3 separate regions of the Homo sapiens genome follow, and all the other regions are linked to region 3. The links come from fine-mapping of genetic effects on gene expression. A gene starts in region 3. Each other region holds a variant in brackets. All regions are shown on one strand. Distances are from middle to middle.

Evidence for each region.
Region 1: its variant is fine-mapped to the expression of RAP2A in monocytes (TOPMed, PIP above 0.99). The same link has a PIP of 0.9 or more in blood mononuclear cells and whole blood.
Region 2: its variant is fine-mapped to the expression of RAP2A in whole blood (TOPMed, PIP above 0.99). The same link has a PIP of 0.9 or more in lung.

What each region holds. Positions count from the first base shown.
Region 1 is chr13:97,378,573-97,389,497 of GRCh38, reverse strand. The region is part of intron 8 of MBNL2 (muscleblind like splicing regulator 2); the gene reads right to left. Among named protein-coding and RNA genes, the nearest start is that of RAP2A, 50 kb to the left of the region's middle. The variant T/G (reference allele first, on the strand shown) is at 4,792.
Region 2 is chr13:97,462,630-97,473,554 of GRCh38, reverse strand. It overlaps RAP2A (RAP2A, member of RAS oncogene family), which reads right to left. Exons shown (of 2, transcript NM_021033.7): 2 at 4,427-9,350. The coding sequence ends at 9,113. Among named protein-coding and RNA genes, the nearest start is that of RAP2A, 34 kb to the right of the region's middle. The variant T/G (reference allele first, on the strand shown) is at 5,569.
Region 3 is chr13:97,429,219-97,440,143 of GRCh38, reverse strand. RAP2A (RAP2A, member of RAS oncogene family) reads right to left here and starts at 5,975. Exons shown (of 2, transcript NM_021033.7): 1 at 5,360-5,975. The coding sequence starts at 5,673. RefSeq lists silencers at 1,754-1,947, 5,799-5,858, 5,879-6,238 and enhancers at 6,389-6,438, 6,459-6,588, 5,860-6,791, 6,739-6,878.

The DNA.
Region 1 (10,925 bases), 51 kb after region 3:
CTCCTAGGCTCAAGAAATCCTTCCACCTCAGACTCCCAAAGTGCTGGATTATAGGCGTGAGCCACTGTACCCAGCCAGTTTCTTAAATTGATATATAATAATATGTATTTTAGAATGCATTTAGATTCTTGCTTATTTGCTGAAATTGAAATGCTATAAAGAATGAAATTCCTAACCATCTGGAAAAGAAGTATTCTATGAAAAGCATAGCAATGGCAAATTAGAATGGGCAAACGTGGGTTATGGAAGTTACCTATGGCAAGGCTTTGAACTTGTATTTGACGAACAGACATAAATGACCACTGAAATTTAATTGGACTGTAAATCAGTCTTGGAGCTAACTAAAGCATAAACTAGTCTCACCCAGACTGCACTTCCCCTCTGCCCCAGTCTACCGATGAGCTATTATATGAATAAAGACATCAATAAAAATGAGCCCTGGGACTATTGAACTCTCAGCTGTGACTGCTGCCTGGCATCTAGGCCAGAAAACTCTGGCCATCCCCTGGTCTTTGTCTTTGGCTGTCATTTGGTATAAAAAACGAATCACACTCTTGGCATCTGTGAACTTCAAGAGGTTCAACAGATTTAATCTTAGAAGGTGGGAAAGCTTTGGGTGTTTTTCCTTATAGGTTCCATTTTTGGGTGGCAGCATTTTTCTTGGAAATATCTTCTGATTATTAAATTTTTTTTTCCTGAGAAATACAGCTTGCTGATACAGTCTGTATTATCTGTACTCTGGGGTGAAATATGCCCTGGAGATATAGACAGAACAGGGATACAGATCAAGAACAGTTATCAACTGAGGGCCTGTCATATCACTAGCACCCATCTGATTGCACTTCTGTTGTTAGGAGGCACAGGACCTTACAGGCCCGAGAGTCCCAGGGGAGTGTGGGACAGATCTAGCCGGAAGACCACCCACAGGACAGGAGGAAAGTGGAAAGCCAAGTGTGTGTGCTTGTGGGGACTGGCGGGAGGGAGAGGAGAAGCTGCTTTGAGAGAAAGAGGAACCTCTTGTCTAGTTTTTAACATGGCTTTTCTTTATTCAGATTATATGTTGATTTAGCACTAAACAAACATAATTTAATGTTTGATGAATAGATACATTTTGTGTGCTTTCCTGTTACCTCTTTTCAGAGATTTTCTCCCATACCAATGATATATATATATATATATATATGTATGTATGTATATGTATAAACTTTTTCCATCTTTATTGTAGTTTTGTGGCCAGGAGGATCAAAACCTTCATGGGGTGCCTGAATATTTCATTACAGATAAGAAACATACCTTCTTAAAATACCAGGCTTATATGTGGCCCTGGCACATGGGCTACTCATCTGATGTGGATCAACCTTAATTTTGAACTTCTCCATTTCTTAAAATGCTAATTAAAATACAGTTCACCAAAGTGAGCTCAACAGACCAACTGTCCATCACTTCTTTCCTGTCCTGCATTTGGTCAAAGCTGGTGCCCAAAGTTCCCTACTCAACCTCCAAGGCACAGCACCCCATGCTGTCTTGAAAGGGAAGTGGAAAACTCATAGGGTCTGCCAGGGTATGCGTAAGTCAGAGAAACAGCCACCACATTGGGGGTCTCCTGCCAGTCTCCTCTCTGAAGCACCCTTGTTTTTGTTTGAATTTTAAGATATATCCCCTTGATTTTCAGGAGGCTCTGAGAATTTACAAGCTAGAGTCTTACAAGCTAGGTCAGTATTGTGATCATATTTTGCAGACATGGAAAAGATGACGTGCATAATTTTAACTGGCTTGCACAATGTACAAAGTGCTTGCACAAACCAGCATGAGTTTGGAGATGTCACTCTGCTCATTGGTGAAGGCATCCCCTCCAGGGCATGGGGACGGTCTGAGATAGGGCGACGGGACACAGAGGTTCCAAAGAGCATGGCTGTGCCTCATGGAGCCTGCTTCAGAGGGTGCTTAGAAGAACCCCTGTGAGCTTGGGAATCAGGGGAAGGCGAGGCCCTGGGGTGGAACCTACAGCAAATGCACTTGGAGCTTTAGAGGGGAGACAGTGAGACTGTTTGGAGGGGCTAGATGGGTGGAAATTGCTGGGGGACTGTGAGGCTGCTGGGCCTCTCATTCAGGGCATCCTTGCCTGGGTGGTCAACCACATCCTGCCCCAGGGCTCCTCCAGATGGATGTTGCAAACGTGTCTGCTTATAGCATCAGAACACCCTACCGCACCACAGTGCCGCTGCCTCAGCTGCTGAGAAATCTTGGCAAACTATGACGGTAGGAAAGAAATCAAAGATATTCAACAAGCTATATTTCTATTTGTCTCCCTGGGAGACTATTGCCTCAAGTAAGTAGTGTTTTATATAACAAAGCACCATGACAGGAGAAGGAAGTTAAATTATTAAATAAGATTCTAGCTAATCTAGTATGGTAAATCAAAATTCTGAACTGCAAGCATTATTTTCAATTCCTTTTTCCACTAAAAGGAGAACAGACAAAAATAGGAATAGCTGATGCCCACAGTATCTGTGATTCTGTTTTTAAGGCAAAGATACACTTGATCTCAAATCATGAGTACTTTTCTAAATCTTCAGTGGCCCCTCTGGGTGGAACAAGAGTATCTCTGATGCAAAAATATCAGCTGGCTACAATGGAGTCTGCTTATCAATAAGGAAAGGAAATCACATTAAGTGAATTAAACTGTCTCCCCTAGGTGGTTGGATTTAAGAATCTGATGATTCTGCTCAATATACGTTCTCAAGTTACCCCAATGTGAATCCAGTACCTGATTAGTTTCATATTTACTTGTTGAAGACAAAGCATGAATGGCTTCAAAAGCATCAAATGGGTTATTTTTCTATCAAATATGTTATGAGCAGCCATTTAATAATTATAGTGTCCTCAGTGAATTGCCTGCCATTGACTCACAGTGCAGTGGTAGCCAACCTTACTAAAAAGTGGACCAGATTAGGTACTGTCTAATACTAAGCCTCCTGGGGCCAGGCAGGAAAGATATGTAAGTGAATAGGCCAGGTCGAGGGTGTGGCAACAGCCACTCAGCCCCAGCCAAGTGCTACCTGCGGAAACATGGGCTCCATATTACTTGACCTTTTCATTTGCCAAAAGAAGCTGGAAATTCAGCAATGAATTCACATCACAGAAGGATCATATATATCTTTGGGCTAAATTCAGCTAAGAGCTGCTGGTTTGTGTCCTCATCAGCTTTACTTTCTTGAAGGCAATATCCACTATATTCACTAAGTCTGGATGGCTTCCTGAGCTGGCATCAGCCAACGCTACAGGCAACATCATGGCAGGCAGCAGTGGTAAGAGTGAGACCAGGAGAGCAGGTTTACAGGAGAGTTAGTCCTACAACTTTCAGACATTTGGCTTTCGCCCAAAGAAAGAGAGTATGTGACCAACAAGGCACCCTCTACCTAAAAAGAAAATACCAACCCTCCCTTGACTGAGTCATCAGTTATGAAACATGCATGTTTTCTTGTCTCTGCCATGTGATGATGGATTTAGGCTGAGCCATCCATACCTGTCACTCATGATGTGCGCTCAAAAAAGAGCTGAACAGGGTGAGAAACACACTTGGTTCAAAGCAAAATAGTCTCTGCAGAGACTGAAACACTGAACTTGAACTAATCAGCACCATGAACTTAACAGCTGAACTAACCAGTCCTCATGCAGAATGGTGCAAGAGAAGACAAATCAACGTAGAATTTCCTTAGTATTTCAGAGGTACCAAGTATTAATACATTCTGGGTTTTCTACCTTGAGGTTGATCTCCAGGAATTGTACGTATGTATAACTTTGGAAACTGTGGGCTTCTAGGTGACTTCTAGAAGTGTTTATACTTCTTATGTAAAAGTGCTCATTTCAAAGATTCAAGGATGTCAGATGAGTTATTTTTTAAAATGATAGCTCAATATTAAATTTGGTAAGAACTGTTCCTGCTCTGCTTAATTGATAGGAAAACATTCCAGTGAAAATGCCAAGAATTTCCATATATGCAAGTCATCAAGCAATTAGAAAAGAGAAATAATGGATGTTTTGGTTCAGTCTTCCTGTGAATAGCCATTAGGACTGTCTTTGTAATGTTGAGTTTGGATGGCATAGATAAAAAATACCTTATAACATATTTGTGCAGCCTTGCTAAACTACTAAGGAATCTCAATGCATCTTGATGTCACTAACATGGAATCTCAAGTGGGTACTTCCAAGCAGGGCTGGTGCACTAACTGGGTCCACAGCCAAACCAAGCTCTTTAAGGACAGGGGGACTGTCTCATTCATCTTTATAGCCCCAGTATCTAGGATAGGGCTGGGAATTTATTAATTGTTGCTTGCATGGATGGCTAAATAAATTGAAGTCATTGAAGACACAGTGCCACAATGCTGGCATCAACAGAAGACCACCAGACCATTCATGGGAGAAACAGGAATGGGGCAGAAAAAGAACCCTTTGCACAAGATGTGTCATCTGTGCACCTTGTTAGGGTAGTTAAGGACTCAGAAATATCTAAGAGAAATAAACATTCCCTCCCCATTCTCCCATTCTCCCTACTCCCCATTATAGATAAAGGGGAAAATATTCCAGGCTGGGGGCAGAATCACTCACAGAGAAGGGAAATACAGCAGATAAAAATTCACCTAAAGTAACCTTCTAGACTTGGTAGGTTTCTTAGAAATCTTTTGCCATGGTTACAAGGCCCTGTTTCCCCAGAAGGCAGTTAAAGATATTAATAATATTTCACTGCCTCTTTAAACAAAATTTATTATTAATTTAAAAATAGGCAATTAA[T/G]TGGCATTTCCTAAAAATAGGGCTAAGCTAAGGAGGCTCGCACGTTGCTCACCCTCCCAGTCTGTGTTTCTTCATCCAGTGTTTTCTTCTGATTCTGTCTCACAAGTTCCTTCTTCCCACTCTCTGTTAGCATTGCTTCCTCCTTTAGTCTGTGCACCATTTAATATTCTCTCCACCTTTTCCCCACTGCCCCACACCTCTTCTCCACAGCAGCCATGACTGTCTGAAATGCCCTGATCTTGCCTGAGAGGCTACACTTGTGAGATCTTTCAGTTGAAGCAAACTGCACAGAGGCAAAGGGACATGTGTACATTTTGACTCCAGTATAATTCAGTACTTAATCACAGTATGGATTACTGAAGTCAAAAGAAGTGTCTTAGTCTCTTAGTGAATATATGGTATCAGATAAAAAAGTAATTAAAGCAATTATAATTATACATGTTAACAAATGTACACTTTCAAGAACTTTCTTTGGCCTATTTCATGACTATAAAATTTTAAATATAGGCCGGGTGCAGTGGCTCATGCTTGTAATCCCAGCACTTTGGGAGGCCTAGGTGGACAGATCACTTGAGGTCAGGAGTTCGAGACCAGCCTGGCCAACGTGGTTGAAACCCTGTCTCTACTAAAAATACAAAAATTAGTTGGGTGTGGTGGTGCACGCCTGTAATCCCAGCTACTTGGGAGGTTGAGGCAGGAGAATCACTTGAACCTGGGAGGTGGAGGTTGCAGTGAGCCAAGATTGCGCCACCACACTCCAGCCTGGGCAACAGGACGAGACTCCCGCTCAAAAAAAAAAAAAATTAATTATATAAAAAGCTCAGAGATCATCAGTAGTATATGAAAAGACACTTAAAAATAGTCTGATTCATTATTCTGGGGGAATATTGTTCGGAGGTTGGGCAGTGTCATGCCATATTTGACTTATTTTCAAAATGTAGTTTTATTTGCACAGAAAAGGCATACACTGAGGTCCTGGGGAAAAATTATCAAATATGACAATCAGCTTTACTCTGGAGAAGAGCACACTGAGGTTGTAATGTCCGTAATATTTCATAGCACCTTCAAGAGGAGTTTTGCCAGAATTATTGTTTTGTCCTCTGCTGTTTAGTAGAAAGTTTATATTCAAAGCTCTAATTCCCCTAGTTTCAATGATACTTTTTGTGGATGACTCATTTCTGTCCAATATTTTCCACTTGATTATATTTGAACAAAATATTTTTAGATATACTAAAGAAAAATTGTCATTTAAAACTATTAATAATTGACGTTTTACATGAAAAGCAATAATACTGTCCTCGCTGAAGATTACTGACCAGGGTTCACATTGACAACTTAGAGTATCTGGATAAAATTCATAAACGGGAATGCTCAACTTTGAATAAGATTCTGCTCTTTGCATGAGTCCATGTCACATGTAAAAACATCTAGGTTCTTATGAGTATTGCAGTTAGGCTTTGATTATAATCCCCTCCCTGACTCCAGACAGTCTCCTTCAATCCTAGCTCCCCTGGGGGAATTCTGAGGATCATTTCTGTGGCTCTCATGCTGAGATGGGAATCTTGTCCTCAGACCATCTAACAACCCATATGTCATCCAAGGGTGAACACTTTTCTTCTCCTATATGATATAAATGAGGATGAAGGTAAAGAGGCATGAGAAGGAGACTTTTCTTTCCTGGCCCTTTCCGCTGGCGTTCTAGAAGTGTTTTAAGCAAAGACATATTCAAGAGCACTGTGTATTTATTCAGAAGGAGGGGAGTTATGCGACTGTGTTTCCTCAGCAGGTGCCAGAAAAGGTAAAATCAAAACAAAACCCTAGATTGGAAGGACTGCATGATAGCCAGGAAAAAAAAAGTGAAACCCTGTCTCTACAAAAAAATTAGCCAGGCATGGCCCAAGTGAGGCTAAGGCAGGAGAATCACTTGAACCCGGGAGGCGGAGGTTGGAGGTTGTGGTGAGCCAAGATGGCGCCACTGCACTCCAGCCTCGGTGACAGAGTGAGACACCCTTTTCAAAAAAAAAAAAAAAAAAATAGTTGGCAGATGAAACCATGGCATCAAGAGAAATGGGGAAGAAGGTGGTGTGAATGGGTCTGGTGGCTACCCAGAAGCAGGCCCGAGATTTTATCTTCCTATTCCTTACCCAACATTTGTGATTCCACACCATACTTCCCATTCCGACTCCACAGGCTTTCCCCGGATGACATTCTAGTCATGGAATTCACCAGGGATTATGGCGCCTCCACAGCTCCAGCAGGTGGAGGAGGTGACGGAATTTTCTATTTTCTGTTGCATGGACATCTGGGGGTTTGGTGATATGTTTCTTGAATCCCAAAGATATAGCAACATCATAGACATGAGTGGCATTTGGCCTGGGCCATGCTTTAGCACTGTGTTACTTATAAAAATGCCACAAACTAAATAAAATGGTTGTAGGCCAGCCCAGAGATCTAACCACCAAGGCCATGGCTGTCTCTGTAGGAGAACTGAATTTCAAACCAAATGACAAAGGTAATTTTGAATATGTTTAAAATTAGGGACTGTATGTGTACTAAAGCAGGATAAATTCCTCTACTAAATCAAGAAAAAATATATAATATGTGGGACACACTAAGAAAATATTTGAAAGTGTTTAAAATATTTACAGTAAGTTGTGTAGGAAGTGAGGCTCTCTGAGATTAAATAGGCTGCTTCACTGAAGATGACTCCTGGACATAAAGTAGAATCTGAGAAAACATTTTTATACCTTTAAAAATCAGCACTGTATTCACTGCTGTATTCCCAAGGTAGGTCTTAATATTATGTAACATAATATGTAATATATGTAATATGCAGACAATATGTTACATAATATTAATTAATATAATATGTAACATAATATTAAGACCTACCTTGTTGTATACATTGAAAATATTTTCCTAATATATCTATTTTTGTTCATGGTTATTGTTGATATAAGTATATCTGGAATATTTTAAAGAACAGGAACTGGCAACTCAGGAGTGAAAAATAAAAATTTAATAAACGTGAAAGTTAAAAAAATTAAAGCAACAAGGGAATTCCAAAAAAATTCATTTATGCAGCAACAGAAAAGAAATTTCAAAAGCATTCATATATGATATGGGTTTTTTTCAAAATGAGATTTTGCTCCCAGTAATAAATTGAAGATTCAGGTCAAGAAAAATCACAGAAACAAGATCTTGTTGGATTTAACATAAAATGTCCAATCCTGCTCAATGCCCTGCTTTTGTATCCATTACCATTATGTTGGACTTAGAATCCTGGGCACATTTTGGCCACAGTACCCATTTTAACAGTGGAGTAGAATGTGTAATTTAGCCTGCTAAGAATTGGCTTTCAAGGCATCAAAGGGAGAAAAGCAACCAAATGCTAAAATGCAGTAAAAGGAACAGTAAGATTAATGTAAGGTACTGGACTTGGACATGTGTCTTTGTGTATCGTCATCATCTTACACATTTCTCAAACTGGTGGGATGCTGCTGCCATATAACAAATTTTCCAGCAAAAAAATTAGTGTTTTTTTCTTTTTAGTTCTTTGCCTGTGTGTGGTGTGTGTGTGTGTGTGTGTGTCAGAGAGAGGGAGAGAGAAAGAGAGGGACAGAGAGGGAGAGATAGAGAGAGAGGTTAACAAAAACCACTCAATTGTGTGTAAAATCTAGGTGCAAAGGAAAAATCAAAAAGAGTACTGGAGGGGAATTTCAGGAGGCTTGTCTGTGCCACCAGTCAGATTTGTGCCCTTTCGAGCCTTAGTTCCTCACTTGGCTTGTATCACGCTGGCACCTCTGCAGTGCGGTAAGTAGTTAAGCCAGGTCACCATCTGCCCTCCCCAGTAAGCCCTCAGGAAGTGCCAAAATAGCCAATCGTCGGCAAAATGGAAACCAAAGGAGGAAAATGTTTAGAGGAGGAGGAGAGCTCCCACATTATCTTGTATTTCTTTATTACTAACCATCCCCCATTAAAGCTCGGTGGTGAGGCCCATTCTTTCAGCATCACCATTTACTTTCTGAGATGACCCTTCTCATATGATAAGGACTCTGACTGTAATTATTTGTACATTTGTGTATCGCCTGTCCCCCTCACCATGTAAGACCCATGAGAGCAGGAACTACTGTTTTCATTGCTGTATTCCCACAATTCTGAACTGTACATGGCTCAAGGTGGGTGTGGTTTTTTTTTGTTTGTTTGTTTGGTTTTGCTAGAGTCTTGCTCTGTTGCCCAGGCTGGAGTGCAAAGGCGCAATCTTGGCTCACTGCAACCTCTGCCTCCCAGGTCCAAGCGATTGTCCTGTCTCAGCCTCCCGAGTAGCTGGGATTACAGATGCCCACCACCACACCTGGCTAATTTTTGTATTTTTAGTAGAGATGGGGTTTCACCATGTTGGCCAGGCTGGTCTCAAATTCCTGATCTCATGTGATCCGCCCACCTCAGCCTCCCAAAGTGTTGGAATTATAGGCATGAGCCACTGCGCCCAGCTCAAGGTGGGTTCTTAGCGTACATTTGTTGAGAGAAGATATAAAGATATGTTGCCACAGACATGGTTTCATTTAGAAAGAATACGTCTTTGCACTCAGTTCCTTACCTTATGAAAACAGAATTCTTAAAGGGAAATGTGGCAGCCATAAAGAATTTTTAATGCAAGAAGAACCATTTTATACTATAAGATTTTATTAAATGAAAACCTAGGTCCAATCAGACATTGTCCTTGTCACTCCTTAATCCTTTCTTTGGAGAAATGACCACTCAGATCTTTTGTCTATTTTTTAAAATTGTGGCAAAATAGACATAGCATAAAACTCACAATTTTCACCATTTTGAAGCGTACAGTTCAGTGGCATTAACTCCATTCACCTGGTTGTGCCACCATCACCACCCTCCATCTCCAGAATGTCTCCTCATTCCAAATGAAACCTGCCCCCGTTAGAGAATAACTCCACATCCCCCTTTCCTGCCAATCCTGAATCCCTTTCTCCTTCCATTCCTTCTTTCCCACCCTCCCACCCTTTCTGTTCTCCTTCCCATTTGGGGCTTCGCAGTGAGACCCCTGGCTCTTTCTGCTTGTACATCTGAATCATCATTAAGATCCCCGTTTGCTTCCTCATTTAGCTCTGTGGTTTCACTTACAACTGAATTAAACTTCTAGTTGTTCCCTTTACAGTCGCTCCTGCAGGCTGCCTAAAATATTCATCCTCAACTAGTGTTGTTACGTTTACCTGAGATCAATTTGAAAGTGAGGTTCTGTGGGGATGGTGAAGAAAAATAGTATCTTTATTTTTAAATTATTATTGTTAAAAATTAAAAAGTGAGTCTCGATTGAGAGGACTCTTTTTGATAGACTCTTTTCAGGCAGAAGTTGTGTGCCAGTTTTCCCACCCTGGGAAGAGTGAATGGTGCCTTTTCTCAGTGCTTTCTAGCTCTGGTTCACTGGACTGAAATTTGGATTCTCTTGCTATTCTCACCAAGCAACAATATTTTCACACCATTTCTGATATTGAGCTTGGACTTTAAAAAGTTTTCGCTTCTACTAAACTTTCTTCTCAACTAGTCAAAACTTTTCAAAGCAATAAACTCAGTAGTTCGGAGTTTTTAAGGGGAGTCATATGAAGAGGTTCATCCCAAGCCTACACTGACCATAGATTCCAATCTAATTCAAACAAGGTGGGTTCACAAAAGAACAGGATTTGCAGGCATGCAAGCCTGAGGTCTACACAGATCCAGTTGCTTCCTACCTGCTTGAATCTTAAGCAAATTATTCTCTAAGATGTGCTCACTTATATAAAATAGATAAGAAACTTCACAGAGTTATGTTGAGTAGTAAGAGAAATAATGTATATACACATCTGATATGTAATAGTGGTTTTTGATAAATGTTGCTTCTCTTTCCTTAGGCTATTATTTTAGGATTCATAATCCTAAATAATTTTTTTTCAGTTTCTATTTAAATAGACATTCAAATAATACTATGGTTAACTTAAATATTATACGATCTGTATGGCACCCCGTATGTTGGAAATAAACTTGGTTTTGAAGAGATTAAGATTCTTAAATATGAGCACTTAATTCCTTTTCTGTATGTGTATCTCCTGAACTGTCACTGATGATAAAGTATAAACCGA
Region 2 (10,925 bases), 33 kb before region 3:
CTTTTGTCCCTTTGTTGGTAGTGCTTGGTTTGATCACCTGGTTCATGTGGTGTCCGCCAGTTCTTATCACTGAAAGGCTACCTCTTTCCCTTGGCAAGTAAGAAGTAATTTGTGAATATATGTTTCCCTCTAACCCTTCCACCCAATGGCCTCAGCATTGCTGATTGCTGATCCTTCCCTGAATCTACTTTGATGTGGAGGATTGGAAGGGATGACTTCTTGGTTCTGTTTTCCATATCTATTAGCTAGTATCCTATAAATGGCTCATCCTTATTATTATTTTTTAATTTCACTATGAACTCTCAGATTCAGTTTTTTATTAAGCTGTTTTTTGTTGGACATCATACCCTTTGCCTTGCGAAGTATTTACCAAACTATGAAATACTAGTCCTGTGACATGTTCTAAGAAAAGCTAGCATCCTATGGTTAAATAGTTTGCAGAACATAATGTATTTATATCTCACAATGTTACATAATCCACATTAGGATATTGAAAACCACAAGAGCCTATTTAACTTTGTTTAAGCAGGTGTTTCTCAAACTTATTCGACCATGGAAATCTTTTTCCTATTCAACATTAGTACTTGATGGAACACATTTGCAGAAACACTGGCCAAGAGCCAGCTCTATTAATGTTTAAATATTTCATCAATAATATGAAACAAAGACTGATGATGATGGTTGGTGTATCACTGTTCAATAAACTGTATGATTACAATGGTTATTTTCCTATTATCATATTCATAAGGTCAACTCAGCATACCCCTGAGGGGCTGGAGGTCAAGAACAACCCTAAAGTAGGCAAAGATTTCTTTAAAAGAACACAAAAACAGTTAACCATCAAATAAAAGATTGGTGCATTGACTTCATTAAAAGTGAGGACTTCTGTTTATCAGGAGATATCAACAAGAGTGTGAAAAGGCAAGCTTCAGACTGGGATAGTACACTGTACTTATAAACACGTGTCCAGAAAATGTAAAGAACTCCTACAAATATGTAAGTAAAAGATTAAATAAATCTTTTTTGAGTCACTTCATGAAACAGTAAACAAAACATTTACTCAATGGGCAAAAAACATAAATAGCCATTTCACAAAAGAGGGTAACCAATGACCAATAAGCATATAAATATATTGGCCTTAGAGAAACATGAAGTGAAATCCACAATGCCATACCACCACGCTCCCACCAGAATAATGAAATGAAAAATGACAAAGCCTGACAGTGCCAGGTATGTGTGTGGAAGGTGGAGTTGGTAGATGCCATGAGGCACCACCTGGACCTCCTTTCAGTCAAGTAACTGCTGCCCTGCTGCTGAGAATGCTGACAACCTTCACTCTCTGATCCTTCAGGGATTGCCTCTGCATCTTGTTCAAGGTCACAGTGACTGACAGGCAGAGGGTACAGAGGACTAAACCATCTGAGCCCAACTCAGGACAATTCTAAGGGCCCCATTCTAACTCCCTCTGTCTGGGGGTTGTTGGCCCTGCATCACACAACTTCTCCCTCTGGCCAATCTTACTTCCTCTACTCCCTTCCACAGGAGTTAATCCCAAGGACATTTGGTAATAAGCATCCTGCACACTAAGCTCTGTATCACAGCCCTCTTCCCAGGCAATCCATCCTGTGACATGGTGCAACTGGAGTACTCACACGTTGCTTGTTTATGTAAACTGGTACAACCACTTGATAAAACTATCAATGTTTACCAAAGTTGACAATCAAGTCTTGTAGTTCAGCAATTCCCCTCCTAGATAGTGACCTAGGAGTGAGTATTGTGTCTATCCACCAAAAGTCATGTACACAGATGTTCATAGCAGCTTTATTCATGATAGACTCAAACTGGGAATGACTCCAATGTCCATCAACTGTAGATTGCCTCCTCTCCTCTTCTCCCTCTCTCTTTTCTTTTCTTTTTTTTTTTTAGGATGGGGTCTCCCTCTGCCACCCAGGCTGGAGGGCAGTGGCCTGATCTCGGCTCACTACAACCTCTGCCTCCCAGGTTCAAGCAATTCTTCTGCCTCACCCTCTAGAGTAGCTGGGACTACAGGCATGTACCACCACGCTTGGCTAATTTTTGTACTTTAAGTAGAGACAGGGTTTCACCATGTTGGCCAGGCTGGTCTTGAACTTCTGACCTCAAATGATCCACTCACCTTGGCCTCCCACAGTGCTGGGATTACAGGCATGAGCTATTGCACCCAACCCTCTCCCTTTCTCTGCCATCCCTCTAGAGACTACAGGGGTCAGAGGAATTCTCACGCTCACAACCGATCCAGGTCCCCTCACCTGGACAGAGTTCCCACATCAGCATTTGGAGGCCAAATATCTAATAGCAGCATTTTCCAAATTGTGCTCCAGAGAGTGCTACTATGTATAATTGAAAGAAAGTGTCCTGGGGTCTAGTTATTTTTGAGACATGAGTGGAATTTGAGTTTTTTCCAAGATGTGAGATGTGTTATGTGGGGTTTCCCAAACTTGCTTGACTCTATCATCGTTTTCAGCAAACCCTCTCATGGTATAAGACCTCTTCAGAACACACTACAGAGCTGTGCTGTGAACAAACCAACATTTTAAACTAAAAAAACTCACTGAAACCTAAAAACACCTGGTATTTAACTATAGGCATGGACCCAGCATTTATTCTTCAGTGTAGTATCTGATACATAGAACCCTTTGCCCTGCTGTCCCCAACCTGCCTCTGTATCCCCACTGCCCCTCACTAATCCTATTTTTACTCTGAATTCTTCCTGAGAAGTAGACCCAGCCTGTAACAGTAGAGCCTTGAAGCCCTGCTGTATTGCCATCCCCGTCTACTGTGTCCCACAGACACCTCAAGATCCCGGGAGGGACTAGCTCAGGCTGATGCACCGATCTTGAAAAGTGAACAGAGCCAGCAGCAGTCTCTGGGGCTGTGTCTGGAATTTCGGCTCAGCCTGGGTTTACTGGGATGCTGACATGTGAAAGTAGGGAAGGTACAAATTATTTCTTGCTAGTAAACTAAACTGTATCTGCCTTAAGAGAAAAAGGAATGGCAAGAAGACAGGACTAGGATGTCTTTGACATCAGGGTTTATGTGTAGATGACCATCTCTGTATTGTGGCAGTGCCAGATGCAAGTGTAACCTCTCAATAAATAATAGCTGAATGAGCATGGAATGAGTGGATTCAATTTAAGTGAAAGGATTAACAGTGGGGAAAAGGTCATTTAGAGTTAGGAGCTTGTTAGAAGAATTAGAAATTAAGTGGCAGAGTTAGAAACTCAACTCTGCCACTTTATTAGCTGTGTGACTTTCAGTGATTCATTTTTAGTACTTAGAGCCAGTTTCTCAAAAGTAACATCGAGTTATTTATCCTTCTACCTATGTTCACGTACTTGCATATGTATATGTGCATAGGAAGATGCTGGGAATGATTTACATCCATTGTTAACATGGCTGTTTTGGGGAACTGAAAGTTGGGGTGACTTTTTTTTTTTTTTTTTTAAGAAGGAGTCTCCCTCTGTCACCCACGCTGGAGTGCAGTGGTGCGATCTCGGCTCATGGCAACCTCTGCCTCCCAGGTTCAGGTGATTCTCCTCCCTCAGCCTCCCGAGTAGCTGGGATTACAGGTGTGTGCCACCACGCCTGGCTAATTTTTTGTATTTTTAGTAGAGACAGGGTTTCACCGTGTTAGCCAGGATGGTCTCAATCTCCTGACCTCATGATCCTCTTGGGGTGACCTTTTCTTCCCTTCACTAATCCTGATGTTTTTAAAGGTATAAAAGCACATCACACTCAAAATAGTGTAAAACTGTAAATATGAATCATTGATACTGAAGTTTTTAAAATGGGAGGATCTTATACTAAAAAATCCCCATAAGCTAAACCAAGAATCTTTCCTTCAGTTTTATTCCCAACTCATACATACTAAATAGGTCTTCGTATTTACTCTTTCAAGCAGCTAGTCCTCTACCTTTTTCTCTGCTGAGAAATCTTGGAGGAATCCTTAGAGGCTAACATGAAGACTACTAAGAAAATATAGAAAGAAATAACACAGCGTCTTACCTAGAATAGCAGCAAATCTTTTAAAACTCAATACCTCGATGTTGGGGATGTTGAATATTATCTAAAAACTATTTATAGGCCAGGCATGGTGGCTCACGCCTGTGATCCCAGCACTTTGGGAGGCCAAGGTGGGAGGATCACAAGGTCAGGAGATCGAGACCATCCTGGCTAACATGGTGAAACCCCGTCTCTACTAAAAAATACAAAAAATTAGCCAGGCATGGTGATGGGCACCTGTGGTCCCAGCTACTTGGGAGGCTGAGGCAGGAGAGTGGTGTGAACCCGGGAGGGAGCTTGCAGTGAGCAAAGATCACACCACTGCACTCCAGCCTGGGTGACAGAGCGAGACTGTCTCAAAAACAAACAAAAAAACCACAAAAACTATTTATGAAAATATTTATTAAAAATACTAGATAATATTCAACGATGTAAAACCAGTTGGAATGATCCATTTAAGAGATGAAGAGCAACTATGTTTTATTAGTATTTATGTGGCAACATATTTTAAATTAAGAAACGAGGTCAACAGCTTCTTTCAGAAGTTTGTGGTAATATTCTCTGCTTCATAGATCCTAGAGGTCAGTTGGGTTCCAAATTGGGCAGCACCTTACTCCTTTAGCTACATATATTTTCATTCGTGGACCTCTAACAGACAAATAATATAACTTGAGAGAATTTCAGAGTACTACTTTTTAGCCTCAAAGACGTTCTTCCAACTATCCACTATTGATACATTTAAATAATTTATTAAAAAATTTACAAACACTTCAAATAAAATTATGAAGTTCTTCAGAAGATATTCCTAAAATATAGGCATGTTTTCCTTTAAATATCTGGGATTCTATCTACAGTGCCTCTGTTATATTCATTCAAATTATTCTTATAATCTAAAACAATGAAGCTTCTCAACTGGTGGAATGCTGCCAGAGGATTTCAACAGAGTTTGAAGGCAACATAACCAAAAGGCATAGTTTAAATTGGCTTAGGAAATGAATGGGCTCCTTATCAGAGCAGCTGAAGGCTGTATACAATTAACAGCATCTGTCAACTTTCATAGGGCCCCATATAGAACAAGCAGGCCCTACAGCCTGGCGGCAACCTTCAGCTTCTGGCACCTTCGGATCCACATGACCTGAAAACAGAAAGACGGCTTCAAGCCATCACTAGAAGGCCTCTGAATCATTTTAGTGATATTGCTAATTAATGTTAATTATTTGAACAATTCTGTTAACCTTAGCATCAGGCTTTAAATTAACCAGCTACCATTCAAAATATAAAATCATTTGTAGAGATAAGTTTATATTTATAATAACTGATTTTACAGTCTCTTACATGTTATTTTTATTTTTAAAGACTATGAAAATTATCTACCTACCTGCCTTTTTATATGATGAACTCTCAAATCAGCTAAAATATTTTTGTATGAAGAGTACTAAATTCATTATATGGCAATTTTTAATTGTTTTTGTATATAATACATTTCTCTCATGAGCATGTACAAAACAAAGCAAATCCAGAGTTTCA[T/G]TAAATAAATTTATTTGTTAAAATAATTTAACTCCAAATACAACTGTTGAATTTGCATTGAGTTATAACTACAATTCATGTTTTAATTGAAATGTCAAGGTTTAACAACTGACATTGTTACAAAACAATAAACTTGTTCAATTTTAAATGGTCAGTTGTATTAGAGCGCAACAATTAACTGTGAACTATATCTCTGGGAAACCTCAAATCAATAATGATAAGTCTGTTTCCAAAACCCACTGCAGTCATTCTTGAAACCCTGATCAAGATTTAATAGATGAACAATGACATGTTAAATAAAAAAAAAAAGACCTCCATAGTCCTTAATGTTTGATTGGCTAAGGGACAATTAAAGCTTACCCAGTGCTAACACAAGACTGCTGATAAGAACAAAAAAATTAAAAACACACACATAAACAAAAAACAGCAACAAACAAAACAAAGCACTTTCATATTCATACATACACTGACAACATTAACATTCATACTGGAAAACCCTTGAAAAGAAATACCAGACAGCCTTAGGCAACATTTCTTTATATAGAAAAGCAAATATCAGTAGTATTACCACAGAAAGGTGATGGCAACTGTAGCAATTTGAGTCAAAAGTTCAGTCCTAATTCTACAAACCAAAGGAGAAAATCATCAAAGCACCTTTCAATAGTTTAAGAAAATATTTTATGTAATACTTTTGATCAGATGCTGGCTTGTTTTGTATAAGTTGAACAAAATGAAAGGCATCAGTTACCATCACTATCACAGTTTAAAAGAACCCAAAAGTTGCAACATCAAAAGAAAAAAAAATTCAAAGATGCTGCCTTTGTATAAAAGTAAAAAAAAGAAAATCTTATCACAAGAGCTAAAGAAAAAGTGGGTCTTTGGATCAAACCATAATATTTTTAAGGCATGTTAGAAAAACTTTCACTTATCTAAGTTGCTAGTCTGATCAGGGCATAAAATAAATAGTGACACAAGGTCAACTTTCTTCTGTAGCCACTAAGGTTTCGTATGCCAACAAATGTAATCTTCCTGTTCTTAAGTGTTTTATTACTGTAATATCTCAACAAACACATTCATTTGCCAGCTGAGTTATATATTCATACCAGATGGATATGAATTTCCAGTTTCGGGATGTCCTTGATGCCTTGGTCACTAAATATGCAGGGCTGCGTGGAAACACTCATCAGGCAGCCAGATCAGTTCTTATTCATGTCTTGACAGTAAAAGCCCACCCTGTCATCTGACACAAATGTTTTTAACTATTAATACAACTCAAAATTTTAGGTCATCTTTTCCACTTTACATTCTGCCATATCTTTCATATTATTTAACCTATTTTCACATCTGCATAGCAAGCCATAATGTCAAACTGTGGAATCTTTATAGATATTTCTATTTTGCAATCTTACTTGTCAAAAATTGCTATGAATTATAGAATTCTAAAGAATCATTCTGAGAAGTTAGAGGAATCAAAACTCAACCAATTCACTAACAAATATTTTTATTTCCATAGAGAAATCATATATCTTGAATCTACAACTTCTCTACATGTTTGAATCAAACCAACTTTTACACAGTGAAATTCGTTTCAATAAAATTGGTTAAATTTTTTTGTCCTATAAACAAGGTGGTTCATAATTGAGGATTATAAAAAATTATACTGAAGAATGTAAATATTCAAAAGTCAAAGATTTATGACAGCTATGGCCTGGTTTCATTCACGTATCTCTTCAGTTTTTTCATTATGAAAAATACTATCAATCTTTTTTTTTTTTTTCACCCTCTAAGCTTAATGCCAGTTATTAAACACTTGGGGGGCTACCAATGATTTCATAAAAGTATAAAAGACACTTTAATAATTTAAAAGAAAAAAGTTTTTGATACACTATATTCTGCAGTATAGATTCTTAGTATAGGCAATTATCTCTGACTTGTGCCAAATTCTTAGGAACAATAAACACACATGCACACACAAACACACACTCTTCTCTCAGTTACACACGTAAGACCAGAGGTTACTTGCACAAGACTGTGAAACCAACAAAATGTGGGGTGGTGTATAGATCGCAGGCTCAGTGATATTGCAGTTCTGAAGGCCAAATTCTTCTCCCAAGGCCCAGCTCAAGATAATCTTTTCAGCATTTATGTATAACTAAGTTAGCTGAAGACCCCTCTATACTTGATTGTAAAACTTATGAATAGGTTTTTCCTGTGCCATTAGTCATGCAAATGATAAATACTTCACGACTATGAAAACCAAAAATGTCAGAGCTTGAGCACCTTTTCAAAACAAAATTTTCACTCCAGCTTTATTTGACGCTTCAGTAATCAGGGCAAAATTGTTCTAAGAAAACCTTTATATAATTCTCCAGGAAAATTAAAGGTAAAAGGCTTTTGTCCCTTACCTTCCACTCTATAATTTATGTTCACTTTTAAGCCCAAATTATTTCACATGGTTATTCAATTTTTAAAATGCCTGCAATAAAGCTCTGCTACAGCAAATACTTGATTTTGAAAGCAGGTTAGCCACGGGTCACACTACAACCATAGCCCTTAAAGGCGAGAAGGAATTTGCTGCTTTAATGAACTTAAAAATGCCAGATATTCGTACTGTCCTGTGAGGTTTCTGCAAACGGGAACATGTGGATGCAACATGGCTTCATCTTCCTTACATGATGGTACTAGTTTATCTATTAGAATGCTTCTTGTTAGTAAGGCTAGGTAATCTCTTCCCATCACAGTTGCTTCCCTCTTGTTCAGTAAAGTTATAAAGACCACCCCTAACAGAGGGCGGGTTTGGGGTTTTAATTCTGATCAAACCCTTGTGAAAGCCTCCATTTTCTGTGGCAAAGCAGGTGAATTAACAAATTCTAAAGCCAGACTATATTTTTACATAACCTGTTCTGAGTTTTGCTCTATCAAGGATTGAAGCATGAGTTAGTTCCATGTCACAAATTAGAATAACAGCTACAATTAAGCATCAATTTTGAAAAACAGAAATGTGTTAGCTGAGCAAAGAATCTCCCTGTAATGCTGTTGGCAGGTCAGCTGTTATTATCTTACTTGACGGAATACATTGGTTAGAAGCTCTATCCCATTTCCTGAAATTCAGTACTCTTGTAGGAAAATATTTCTCCTTTACTTATTTTTTTAAAGAAGACAAAATATTTTAATTGTAAGTGGTCAGAGGAATTCTTCTGGTTTCTCCCTTATGGTTATTTTTAATTTGTACAATAGTTGCTTCTGTCAACTCAGCGACAATGCCATCATAGCTTTCAAATGAGATCACCCTGTAGATCGATGGACTATGCCTTAAAGTTGCAGATGCATAAAGGAGACTGAGGACAAATGGTGAAAACTGTAGTTACTGAACCCAAATGTTACTCAGAGATATCAACTGACAATCACTGCTCAATTCTGAATAAGGGCTGCAGTTCTCTGTAGATTAACACCACGCATTCTGCAAGTTCTGCAGTGGAGTAGGCGAGTTTTCTATCACCTACGACATTGGGCAAATCCCATCCAGGACAGCCATATTTGGATGCTATTGTATGTTACATGCAGAACAGCATGGGTCATCTTTGTCAGGCTGAGCAGCATAGTTCATCTGCCTCACAATTTCTGCAAAGAGTTCGTCCACCATTGTTTTACTCTTAGCGGAAGTTTCCATAAAGGGGCAGCCCCACTCTTCAGCAAGGGCTCTGCCTTCGCTGGACGATACTTCTCTCTCACTTTCCAGGTCCACTTTGTTCCCAACCAAGATGACTGGCACTTTCTCATACCTATGAGAGAATAAACAAAACACACATACATTGTAACAGTTAGCACAAAGTTAAACAGGTCACGTGTATTTTCGTTTTTGGGGGCTATTCCAACATAAATGGTATCTTCAGTTGCATGAAAATGATTTGTACCACTTGGCTTGATACTTAGATCTGAGGGCATTTGAAGCTGCTCTCACAGTGGATGATAAAATGAGTTTTATGAAATGATGTTTTAATTAATCAATTATATATCCTTTAAAATCAATTTACCTTTCCAGATATACTTGGAAAATTATTCTCAGAAACTCAGACTAAATCCTCTTTTTTTTCCATTCTGAGAGAGGGTTGCACAAAATTTCACAGTTGATCACACAGTAAATAGCTACAATGAGTAAACAAACAACTTATAATTATCAGCATTTTACTATGTTCTATGTGTATAAAATTGATCATGTTCATACAAAAATCAGCTGGGTGTGGTGGCAGGTGCCTGTAGTTCCAGCTACTCGGGAGGCTGAGACAGGAGAATCGCTTGAACCTGGGAGGCAGAGGTTGCAGTGAGCTGAGATCGTGCCACCGCACTCCAGCTTGAAAAAATGATCATGTTCGTTCTAATAGTTCTCAAACAAGAAAAAAGGTAGTAGAAATCATCCAAATGGAAGCTATCAAATACAACCACACCCCATCCCTTCAGAAAACTTTTATGGATTAGTCAGTTCAAAGAGAAACAATTAGGATTCTTTTAAGACTGACAAGAATTCAGCCTCAATTAGCTTTAATTGGTGTTATTTCTCTTTTTCTTCCTAACTAAAATAGGTATCTCTGAGTAAACACGTTTGGAAAAAGCTAAACTAATAAAAATAGTAAGTGATAAGAAAGAACAAAGAAAGAAGCTCCTAAGTCATTTTGGTGCCTAAGATGATTGTCTCTACAATGGTTACTCCATGTAGCACATTTCACAACAGATGTCAACACTGGTGCTGGACTGCACATTTATTTACTATTCTTCTTTATGTTTGTTCTAAGAAAGATAGCTAATATATTTTCACAAGACATTTTAAAAGGTTTTTGTGATTTTAGTATAAATCTGTGTGTGTGTGTGTTTGTGTGTGTGTGTCTTCCCATAAGCAGAATGTATTTCTGATTTAAAGGAGCTAAACAGCAAGATCGCACAAAAGTGATAACAAATGTGACTGGAAACAGCTAAATCTGTCAGAAGAGAAAACCACCCCATGGTCAAGCCTTTGAGGCAGGATGCATAGACAATTTTTATCATTCAGGAAACTGGATAATAGGCAGGTGGTTATTGTTCGCTATGATACTTCCACAGATTTCTTCATCCTGTCAAGAGGGTTCTCTCCACTCATCCTAACTTGTAAAGCAAACCAAATTCCCAACATTCTCACTTTTTTTCTTTGACACTATATCAAACTAAGAATGGTCTCAACAAGAGGGCATACTCCAGGTAGTGTGCCATTTGGCAATGTGAAACATGAAAACAACTTAAAAATGAGTGGAAGGAACAACATCAAAGGCAAACCTAGAATTTGGATATTATCATTTTATAGGAAATGAATTTGGACAACTTCAATT
Region 3 (10,925 bases):
GTAGCAGAGCTCCAGAAGTTTCACTTACTTGGGACAGACATCTTTTGATGTATACTCTCGTTTCGGCTCTCCAGCACCAAACTGTCATGGGCCAAAGATCTATGTGTAACAATTGGTAATATGCTTCTGTTTTAGAGTAGGCTTTAATAGCTACTTATGGTAAGGGGGAAAGTGTAAACAATCAGCCAGCTCACTTGAAAGTGACCACTTAAGTGATATAGAAAATTAATAATAATCTTAAAAAAAAACAACTTACTCACCTTGGGTAGTGCTAGTCAACTATCTTTTTCCCAATCTTAAAACACCCCACGCCTTCTCGCCTACTGCAATATAGGAAGTCTCCACTGTGTATCTTACAACTCTCGAGTTCTATCCTTGGCTATATTCATTCATTCCTCATTTCTATTGTTAGCCATATCCATTCATTTCTGTCTCTATACTCTACCCAGTAGGTTTCATCTACTCTCCCAATCTGAACTACGCAGATGATCCTGAGTCTTCATATTCATACATAACCTGACCTTTCAGGCTTTATTCAAATGTTCTAATTACTTATTAGGCTGGCTATCTGGATAATTACCATCTCCAAAACTGAAAATAATCTCCCCCAGCTATTCCTCCATAATCCTATTTGTTCATTTCAAAATGTCAAGGTTACTTCTGACCTTTTCCTCTTCCTCTACCACTGAGTTTGATTACTTCATTCTTTACAACATTCCTTGCATCCTTTCTCTCCTGTTACTACAGACACCATGCTAATTCAGGATTTTCACACTTCACGTAAAAACTGGATTATCACAACATTTATGACTATTCTTCCTGTTATGAAACAGAGTAGTCTATTACCACTAAGACATCTACCATATCACTACATATTGCTATACCTATGACAATTGTGATTATGGTCCTTGACTACATGATCAACTCCTAAGTCTTTAACCTTCAGTAATTTAGCTTTAAAAATTTTCACCTTACCTCCCCTCACACTTCTATATACATTCCCCATTTGGCCAGTCTGCTCTATTTAACATCCAAAAAACATATTCTATGCATTTCCTGTGCCATTTCCTCCATCTGGAATACATCATGTTTCTGATTCTTTGAGGTTCGTATTAAACACTGCCCCAACTGGAAGTGTTCTCACAGAAAGTTCGAGCTGAAGGAAGATCATCTCCATCTGCAAAATGAACTTTAAAAGATCATCTCCTCCATCTATGAAATCAAAATGTTTAGGGAAACTGAGGCCAAACAACAATACAAATACTTTTCTTTCTGAACATTCATTTTTTCAACATTTTTTCTTGTTTCCTATGTGCTAGTAGGAGCTGTGTCACCTACGTGGGCTTGGAGTTTTGTGAGAAAGGCTGGCTACCCATAAATTATCACACAAATAATTAAATTTGGATGAGTGCTTCAAAGAAAAGGGAAAGGACAGGGTATGTGTGATTGAGCAAAGAGGTGAGGCATAAAGTTTAGTAAGGGAAGACAGGAAAGGGGTTACTTTGGTTTGAGAGGACATCTTCCCTCAGTGGGGAAAAATCTTTTAACTCATCTATGCCTAGTGTTCCATTATTGGAACACTAAGCTTGTGGGAGTTATTTATATCCTACTGTTCAAGGTCATTGCTAAGGTCTGATATTTCACAAAAAACATTTGCAACCTCCGGTATAAATGGGTTAAGCAGGGGTGAGGGTGAAAGACGGAGTAGGAATTAACTCTGCAAAAAGGTAGATTTCCACAGGCCAAAGGAGAGCCCAGAGAAAGGTACTTTCAAGGACTTAAGGTCTGGGTGCTAGAATAAAAGGATGGGTGCAAGAGGTGAGGCTGCACAGGCAGGGAGGGATAAGAGCAAGCTGGACTGTGAAAGGTCATGTTGAAGATTTCTGGACTTTTTCCTAACAGCAAAGAGGCCTTGTATATCATGTTCCAAGAACTTCATGTCAGGACCATGGCTGATCCTGGCATGGGTAACAATGAAAAAAGCAATTACAAAATCAGAAAAAAATTCTAGTTTTATTTCAACTGAAAAACATTTCCTATATCCCTGTTACTCTTCTTTGTGTGTGTCATCTCACCCAAAATCAAGTTAAGAAAAGAAAGCATATGAATTTACAAATATAGCCATTTTCAGTTGGTCCACTTGGCTTTGACAAGAGGTCATGTATGTATACGGAGGTATGTACACTTACAGACACTTAAGGGAGTATGGGTCAGTTTCACATTTCTTAAAAGTGAAACATTTCAAGTAATAGCAATCCTTGAAAATGACTGCTATTATTTGAAATGAAAATGAAAAATGAAAAGCTCCATTCGTTGTTTGGCTATGCATTAGTGCTATGCATTATTGCTATACTGTACTTGAAGTTAAATGTTCATTCTCATGCCCTTTTCCATCAGATCCTTCATAAGGGGAAATAATTTCAAGAGAATACCAACACAATTCTTCCAAGGATTATTTTAACCTCATTGCTTTTTAGTCTCATCTTGAATATACTAAGTAATGAATTCCAAAATGCAATTACAAATTTATTTCTTCTAAAATTACATTTATATCAAGGGTAACATTTAAGGAAGATAAATGACAAAGTTATTAAAGTAAGAATGACAGCTAGAATTTTTTGAGCAATTTCTGTGTACTGGTATTGTTTTGGGAATGTTAAAATACATTATCTCATTTAATTCTAACAAGGACTCTGGAAGGTGCATGCTAATCTCTATTTCACAGATAAGGAAACTGAAGCTTAGAGAAATAAGCAAGCATTTCCCCAAATCATATACACCTTAGACCTCTGTTGTCCAATATGGCAGCCTGTGGCCACATACGGCTACTGAGCACTTGAAATGTGACTTGTTTGAATTGAGATGTGGTAGGTCAAACACATACCAAACTTTGAAGACACAGTATAAAGAAGTAAAGTACCTTATTAATAATTTTTGAATACTGACATGTCAAAATGATTCTATTTTAAATATGGTGGGTTAAATAAAATACATTAAAATTAATTCCATATATTTATGTTATTTTTAAAAAATCAGCTACTAGGAATGTTAAAATTACATATGTGGCTCACGTTATATCTCTATTGAAAAGTGCTGACCTAGACCTAAAGCTGAATACTGAATTTGACAGTAGATATCAAATACTGAAAGACTGGTAAAGAAGAGGCCACCTGCATTCACATGTCCTCTCCATCAATGATGGGAAGCCAGACGCTGGGGTTAGGATGAGGTGTAAAATACCTTACTACTACCATATTACAAAGACACACAAGTGAGGGTCCAAGAGGTTCTTATGTATACAACGGTTGAATTCTGGTGAAGAGAATTTATGAACTCTACTTCAGCTGATCAATGATCTTTTTATATCAAGAACTGAGACTAGTGAGTAAAATGATACTGGGCATGCAGAATTTTACTCTATGTTTTTCCTCTGGGTCATAGTGAAAATAAACAAATTGCTCCAATATGCTGAGTTTAGACTAACCTATTATTATAACTGAGAAAAGTAATCTGCACTAAATTACAAGAAACTACAAAATTATGTGGACCATATTATCCAATAATATTTTGCCATATTTGTTCCCTAGGCTTGTGTCAAGAAGTTAGCCATGGGTATGTGGCTTTATCAGTGTATATGTGCATCTTCATATCTTTAAGCATATATATCTAAATGTGAAGGGTGAGGCTGTTGGGGCATTTACTTAGATTATTTTTTGATGTATGCATTTGGCCTAACATTGACATGTGGCAATGTATCAGACTACCCTGCAGTTGGTTTGGTTTGTTTCTTTTTAATTGAGTGGTTGGGGGAGGGGGTAATAAGAATTTAAGTAACTTAAATGTAGCCCCTTAAATGCCATCCTCATACTAAGTTTAACACCAGAATTGTTCATCTCTTAACTATAAACATTTAACTTTAGGAAAATGATACTGGAGAAGTACAAAGCTATCAAATTTACAAATCTTAGCAGCAGAGACCACGAAAATATCTGCTTTATTCTAGTTTGGAATTTAACACAAGGATGAATAACATGCACGATTTTAGTTCAGCGATTAAAGTGCATACTCAGTTAAGGGGGGGTGGAGCAATAGAGAGAGAGCCTTCTCTTTGATCTCATAGGTTGCATTAAAAACTCACTACTCGTAATGAATTTTTGATCATCCCCTGGGTACACATAACTTGGTCCTTGCTCTTTCAAAATGAGTGGACTCAAACTGACTTACAATGTGACTGTGTCTACGGTGCACTTACAACCATCTTTCAGTAAAGGTCTTCAGATTTAGGCTCTAGGTAGAATAAGGCAGGAAAAAAAGGACACCAAAATTATCAGCAGGCATTAACTAACAAGAACTAGATGAAACAGTAATGTGTAATTAAATGATAATTAGAAAAATTTGCCAAAACTTTGAACTAAGATATTATCACATTTCTAATGCTTAAAATTACACGGAAAAATATATTCAGTGAATTTAAGAGAAAACAAACATTTTAAATCATTTATCAGCCATATTTCCAAAATGTATACTTTAGAAAAGAATTTATATATATATATAAAGGCTTATTAACATTAACTTTAAATTAGCTAATACTTGTGTCACACTTTTGAAGAAGCTTCTGTTTTGTTTCCAGGAACTGGTGGTGGTGGTGTGGTGGTGTTTTTTTTTTTTTTTTTTTTTTGGAAGGGGTTAAGGCGGCTATATTAAAAACAAAAAAACAAAAACAAACAGTTAAGCTGCATTCTTTTCCTGTGAATGGCTTATTTGTACTCCTCTGTTAATATTCTCGAAACCCCATTTAGCTTATGATGTCTTCAAATAATTTAATAATCTGTCTTTAAAGTTTTGCACTAAATTAGAGACTTAATTTTTGTAAAACGCCTTGGAACCATAAACCTTTAACGAGATGAGAAAGGTCTCCTTCCTCTGGACTTGACTTTACTGTATAGGTGTGTGAGCGATTTTTACTGTCAAACATTGCCAAGGCAGATTGTTGTTGTTCAGTCTGCAAATGTCTCGACTATACCTGCACAGTTCCTCTCTTCCCAAGACAAATCTATCCACCCCTTTCCCCCCTGCAAGTTTTAAACTTTGTTTCCTTGGGGGCTCTGTAACAAGCAATGCTAACAACGTCCAAGAGACAAAGAGCTGTTCTGTGGGCTAACACGATGCCAAATTTTAGTTGTGAAACAAAGCACTCAAATTTGAGATTGAGGAGGAGGAGCAGAATGACAATAGTAAAGCCTCCAGCTTGGAGCCACCCCCCAGAAAGCCCCTTCCCCGGAGCCCCGCGCGGGGAGTTCCAGCCCCGGGACGGTGACTCCGGGGTGCAGCCGCCAAGCCCCCGTGTGCCCTCGCTCACCGCTTCACGCGGATGATCTGGTCCCGCATGGGCTTGATGTCCTGGAAGCTCTGCTGGTTGACGAGGCTGTAGACGAGGATGAAGCCCTGGCCGTTCTTGATGTACAGGTCCCGCATGGACGCGAACTGCTCGGTGCCCGCCGTGTCCAGGATCTCCAGCACCGACGGCGACGAATCCACCTCGATCTCCTTGCGGTAGAAGTCCTCGATGGTGGGGTCGTATTTCTCGATGAAGGTGCCGGTCACGAACTGCACGGTCAGGGCGGATTTGCCTACCCCGCCCGAGCCCAGCACCACCACTTTGTACTCGCGCATCGTCCCTCCGCGGCCGCCGCCGCCGCCGCCGCCCGCGACATAGACCTACGCCGGCCGCGCTGCGCCCCCAGCCCCGGCCCCGGCGGCCCGCCCCGCCGCCTCCCGCTGCCGCCCCCACCTCACAGCCGCGGCGGCCCCCTGGGCGCCGGCGGCGGCGGCGGCAACTGAGGGAGCAGCGGCCCTGGGCATGGGCCGGGCCGAGCCGGGCGGCGATGCGGCCCCGTAGGCACCGGGTGGGACTGAGGGCGAGCAGAGAGAGAGACCGGGAGCCGCTGGTGCCGCCCGAGCCGCGGGCCCGCAGTGCCGCCCGCCCCGCCCCTCGCGCCTCCACGCCCAGATCCCCGCCCGCCGCCGCCGCCGCCGCCGCCGCTACCCCCAGCGCTCGAGCGCGCGCCCGAGCCCCAGCCGCAGCGCGGCCAGGGGCGGGGTCCGGCGGCCGGGGCGGAGCCCGCGGCGCAGCCCCGCCCCCGCCCCCTAGGCGACGGGCCGCGAGCGCTCCCGAGAGGCTTTGCGGGGCTCGGAAGCTTCTGCCCGCGCGGAGATAAACAAGCACCGCGACCGCCGAGCAGCGCCGAACCCAGCGCGCCCAGTCAGACCCCAGGGCCTGTGTACCGAGCATGCGCAGTTCCCGCCCAAGCCAGGAGCAGCGTCAACCTGAGACTCCCGAGACATTAAGAATTCGGAAGGGATGAGATGGTAGAGGGGCTAGAGCTACCTCCAAGCTTTATCCTGAGGCGGGGAGTGAAGGAGAGATGCCCAAGGCCCAAGAGGGGCCGCGAGGGCCTTTGTCCGATGCCACCCAGTCTGTCAGCACTCCTAGAGCTTTGGTTTTATCTTGTATTAGCATGTGAAGCTTTAAGGGGGGGGCACCTACAGGCTTCTGACTGAAGTTGTGTAAACGCAACAAAATGAAGCTTTGGAGCGTTAGGACATTGATGGGAGGGTGACGCCCCCCTCTAGCAGCGCGCCAGAGGGGCGAGTCAGAGGCGGCCACACACCACGGAAGTCGGGTCCAAGCCCGCTGACGTCGCCGGGGTCCCGCCCACCAACCCTCTGGACCCGCCCACATTTCTTCTAGACCCGCCCCTTTCGGTGCCGAACTGAAGTCGAGCTCTTCCCACGCCCTGTCAGCCACGGGTGAGTTGAAAACCTGGAGAGCGGAATCCCGAACGGCAGCCGGAAGGCCCTGGACTCCTCATAGCAACAGCCAGCTAGGGGCATCTAGTGGGAAGCTGGGATTCATTCTAGCCAACCACATCACGTCTCTGTACCACAAGGTACCATTCACGACCAATAAGAGAGCGCCCCCATACCACGTGCCTTTACTCCTTCAACCAATCGAGAAAAACGCTAGTCGTAGGATCCGCAAGCCCACCTCCCAGTGCCTTGCCAGGCGGGGCTCTTCGCGCACGCTCTGCCAACCAATCGTAGGTGAGCTGGCGAGTGACGGAAGCTTCGGCCAAGCCAACCAGAGCTCGCGAGCCCCTTGCCACCGAGGCCGGCGGGATGGAGACAGGGACCGGCTGCTGGGGTTTGGGAGGGGCAGAGATTGAGGAGCCAGTTGCTGTGCCCTGTTCTGGCAAAAGAACAAGATGCGTTGCAAGCCAGAATGATGAATTCCACTTTTCACGTCGCCTCCGTGGCATTCTGCCTAAATGATGGGCATGGAAATGGTGCTGAGGGATGTGGGCTGAATCGAGAACACAGGGACTTTTGTCTTCAGGGTGAGAAATGTTCCGGTCCTTAAGGAAACATCGTGCAGCAGTTGCATGGGTCTTCCAGGCGTTCCTCCCAAAACATTATTTTTTTTCTTTCACTATTGAGTTTTAAAACTTAGCGTTCTGTCGCTAGCATTGCATCTTAGTTACACATCCTCTCCCACCCATAACGTCAAATTTAGGAGACGATACATCCCCAAGCTTTCCTGCATTATTTTTTGCAGTAACTGGTTATTCAGTTTACTTTCTTTAAACTATGTCCTTCTCAAACTAGTCTCACCTGTTCGTTACTGTCGCACATTTCCTGCGAATAACACGTTTCTGTAGTTCTGTTGTTAGAGCCTGGCATACCTCTCCCCGTTCCTCTTTCCCACAAGGTCATCATGCAGAGGGGATTTTGGTCTGAGTTAAAAGCCAGGTATTCTTTCACCATCTTTTCTGTCGATAGTCAAACTACTACAAAGACTACTCAAATTTAGTAGTTTCTTATTTCCCTATAGCTTCGTTATATTAGAATGGATAACTTATATTTGCATTACCTTGCTGTAATGAACACACACCAAGTTTTCATTTAAAATTATCAAGGACAAATGTCCTCTGAATTTAAAAATGTGTATGTAGTAAAATATAACTCAGCATTTCTTGATTACATATCATTAAAATATGAATGGTACTATCTGAGCCACCAGAATCAGCAGTGAAGGTATTATATTAATAAAAAGGACTAAGAATCAGGACTGTTTTAAGGGAACTGGAACCGAAGAGGATCTACTATTTCATCCTAGGCTAGTTAACATGAAATAGTGAATTAAAATTGAAAGAGCTTACATGGATGCTTCATATCTGAGCTACTTTGGCAGGGATGTTTCAAGAGGATGTAGGTAAGTATGGTGTTCACCTAGCTTTCCAGAAGTCTCATATTTTGTGTAAAATTGGTATGCTTATTCATGGTTACTTTGGGTTAGTAGAAGCTATACTTCTTTTCCAAGGAAAGACAGACTGTCTTAAGATTCTAACTGTGCATCTTGGTGATAAGAAGTTCTTAGGGTTGTTAAATAGAGCCAGGAAGCGTGAAGCTTTCTCTCTAGATCATGACAACTCATCTAGTACCTTGCATTACAAAGGAGCTCTAAGTCCATTTACTTTGCAAGGAATGAAGTTCCAGTGATTAATGTTTTTGAGAAATTTGTATTGGGATTGTGGGGTCCAGAAGGTTGCCTTAAGTAACTGTTTTCATGACTCCTAGGTCCCTAGATGTTGAGAAGCTCTGGATTGAAGCTGTCACAAAAATAGTGAGTGGGCTCCGTAGTCACTCCATTTAGCATAATACAGAGTAGGACAGCTTTGTGACATTTCTCAGGCTATTTCCCCTGACCTCTCATCAATGCTGACGTTTTTGATAAGAAGGGGTATAGAGACTGCAGCCCTTGGGGTGGTTACAGTTCATTTATTTACAGGCCTTATATTGACAGGCCTCAGATTTCATGCTCAGTACCATAAAGGTTGATTTTTAACCACCAAGAGGCAAAAGAAACATGACAGGTCGGAGCATATTTTCTCACCTATTCTGGCTTAAATGATGGTACTTACCTGATTTGTGGTTGTAGGTGAAATGTTGGGTGAAAGATTAGCTGCTATAAAAAGGATGTCAGGACGTGTAGAGAATTTAGAGGACTTGGGTGGGAGATGGATGTCTATTTTCTAACCCCTTAGTCATGTTCATTCCGATGCCAGCATAAACTCTATTTTGAGATGATTATAGAAATAACTTATATCTTCATTTGTTTGTGGGAAATAAAAAATAAAAATGATATAAAAGAAATTTGAATTATTCCCAAGAGCTGTAAATCTGTAAGATAGTGAAAACTTAACGCAGTAACTGACACTGCAGGATCCCTTTAGTTTCCAAAGTGCATTGCCAGGAGAATAAAAAGAAAGAAAATCTTCATTTCTCCTCTCTCCACTAAATCTGAAAGGGAGTTATCTCACCTATAGCCAGATACCTTCAATTATCGCACTTGTGTTACCGTGGAAACCCAAGTCCATCCTTTCTTTCTGTAAAAGGTGTTGGAAAAGGTGGTATGAAGTGGGAAAGGTACTGTATTCTGGGACTTCCTGACACCAGCAAGAAGCAAATATGCAGATAATTTAATAGAAACAAATTAGTAGAGGATGTTTGTAATGCGAGGGGTACTTTTCGACTGTAAAACCCTGATTCCTAATGCTTCTTATTAAAGCCTGCATGCCTCTGATTAAACATAAAGGGGAAGGGCATGTCAAGTACATTTAGCACCTGTGAAACGCTGCTGGCAAGTATAAGGAGAGCAGACGATGGTTTCTTGACCTGTGAGGCTCCTAATACAGTTGAGAATCTGCAGTATATATGTGGAGTGGAAAGGAAGGGGCAAAATAAACTTTGTTCTTCCTTTAAAAAATGTGATATGTCTCAGTGCTTTTGAAAAGAAAAGGAATTAGAATGCAGAAATTAAGAGTATGGAAACAACTCAATAAAAGAAACGTATGGGTGGAGAGAGTAGATGTTTCAAAAGGCCATTTTAATCAGAAAAAAAATCTGAAAGAAAAGACGTAATGATTAAAATGTAGGCAGAAAAAAGAAAAAGCCTGAAGAATCTTAAGAGCTAGAGGATTCTGCGGAAAACAGAGCTTCAGTGTGGTTCATTTAACAAAGCAGAAGAGCAGGCACAGTGTTGCTTGCGTACCCAGCAGTTTCCCTTTATTTTTGCCAAAGAAGCTGGGATGAATCAGGATTGGACTTTAATAGCATTGCTTTCCCTCTGCCCACGGTTAGTCCAAAAGTAGGCACGTGACTCAGTTCTTGTCATTGGAATGGGGAGAAGGCTGCTAGGGCTGGAGGGATTTCTAGGATATTGACAAGAGTGAGGAAATATCCCCGTTTTCTGATGTCGCTCTCTTTGCTTCCTGCTTTACACATTGAAATATGAGAATGTGGCCTCCATTTGGGGGCTATGATGCATTATGACATTATGGTGCAATACTGTAGAAAGCCAGCAACTTCGGATGGCCAGGGAGGAGGATGGGAAGAACCTAGGTCCTGCATGACAACATTGGACAGTCAAACCAACATTAGAACTGCCCACATTTGGACTTATGGCTAAGTAAACAGCTGGTGTCTTTCAATTTAAGTGTGTGTTGGTAAGGTTTTCTGCATCTTACAGCAAAATACATCCCACCTGTTAACAAAAAGTATGAGGGATTCCAGCCAAAATCGGGCTTTAAAAAATCAGCAAGCATTTGTGAGCACTTTCATTTCACTAATATCTGAACGATAGTTCAAAGATACTATAATATTAATTGAGTAATTACTGTGTATATTTTTTAGGCTCTGGGGATAAAACAATAAGCAATTAGCCAAAAGAGCTTGTATTCTAGCAGGAGAGACAGATATTAAGCAACCAATTACATGTTTATATTATAAAATAATGGTTATGCTTAAAACTAATAAGGAAAAATCAGGAATTAGAAAGGGTATATAGTAATTATATAAATAATAAA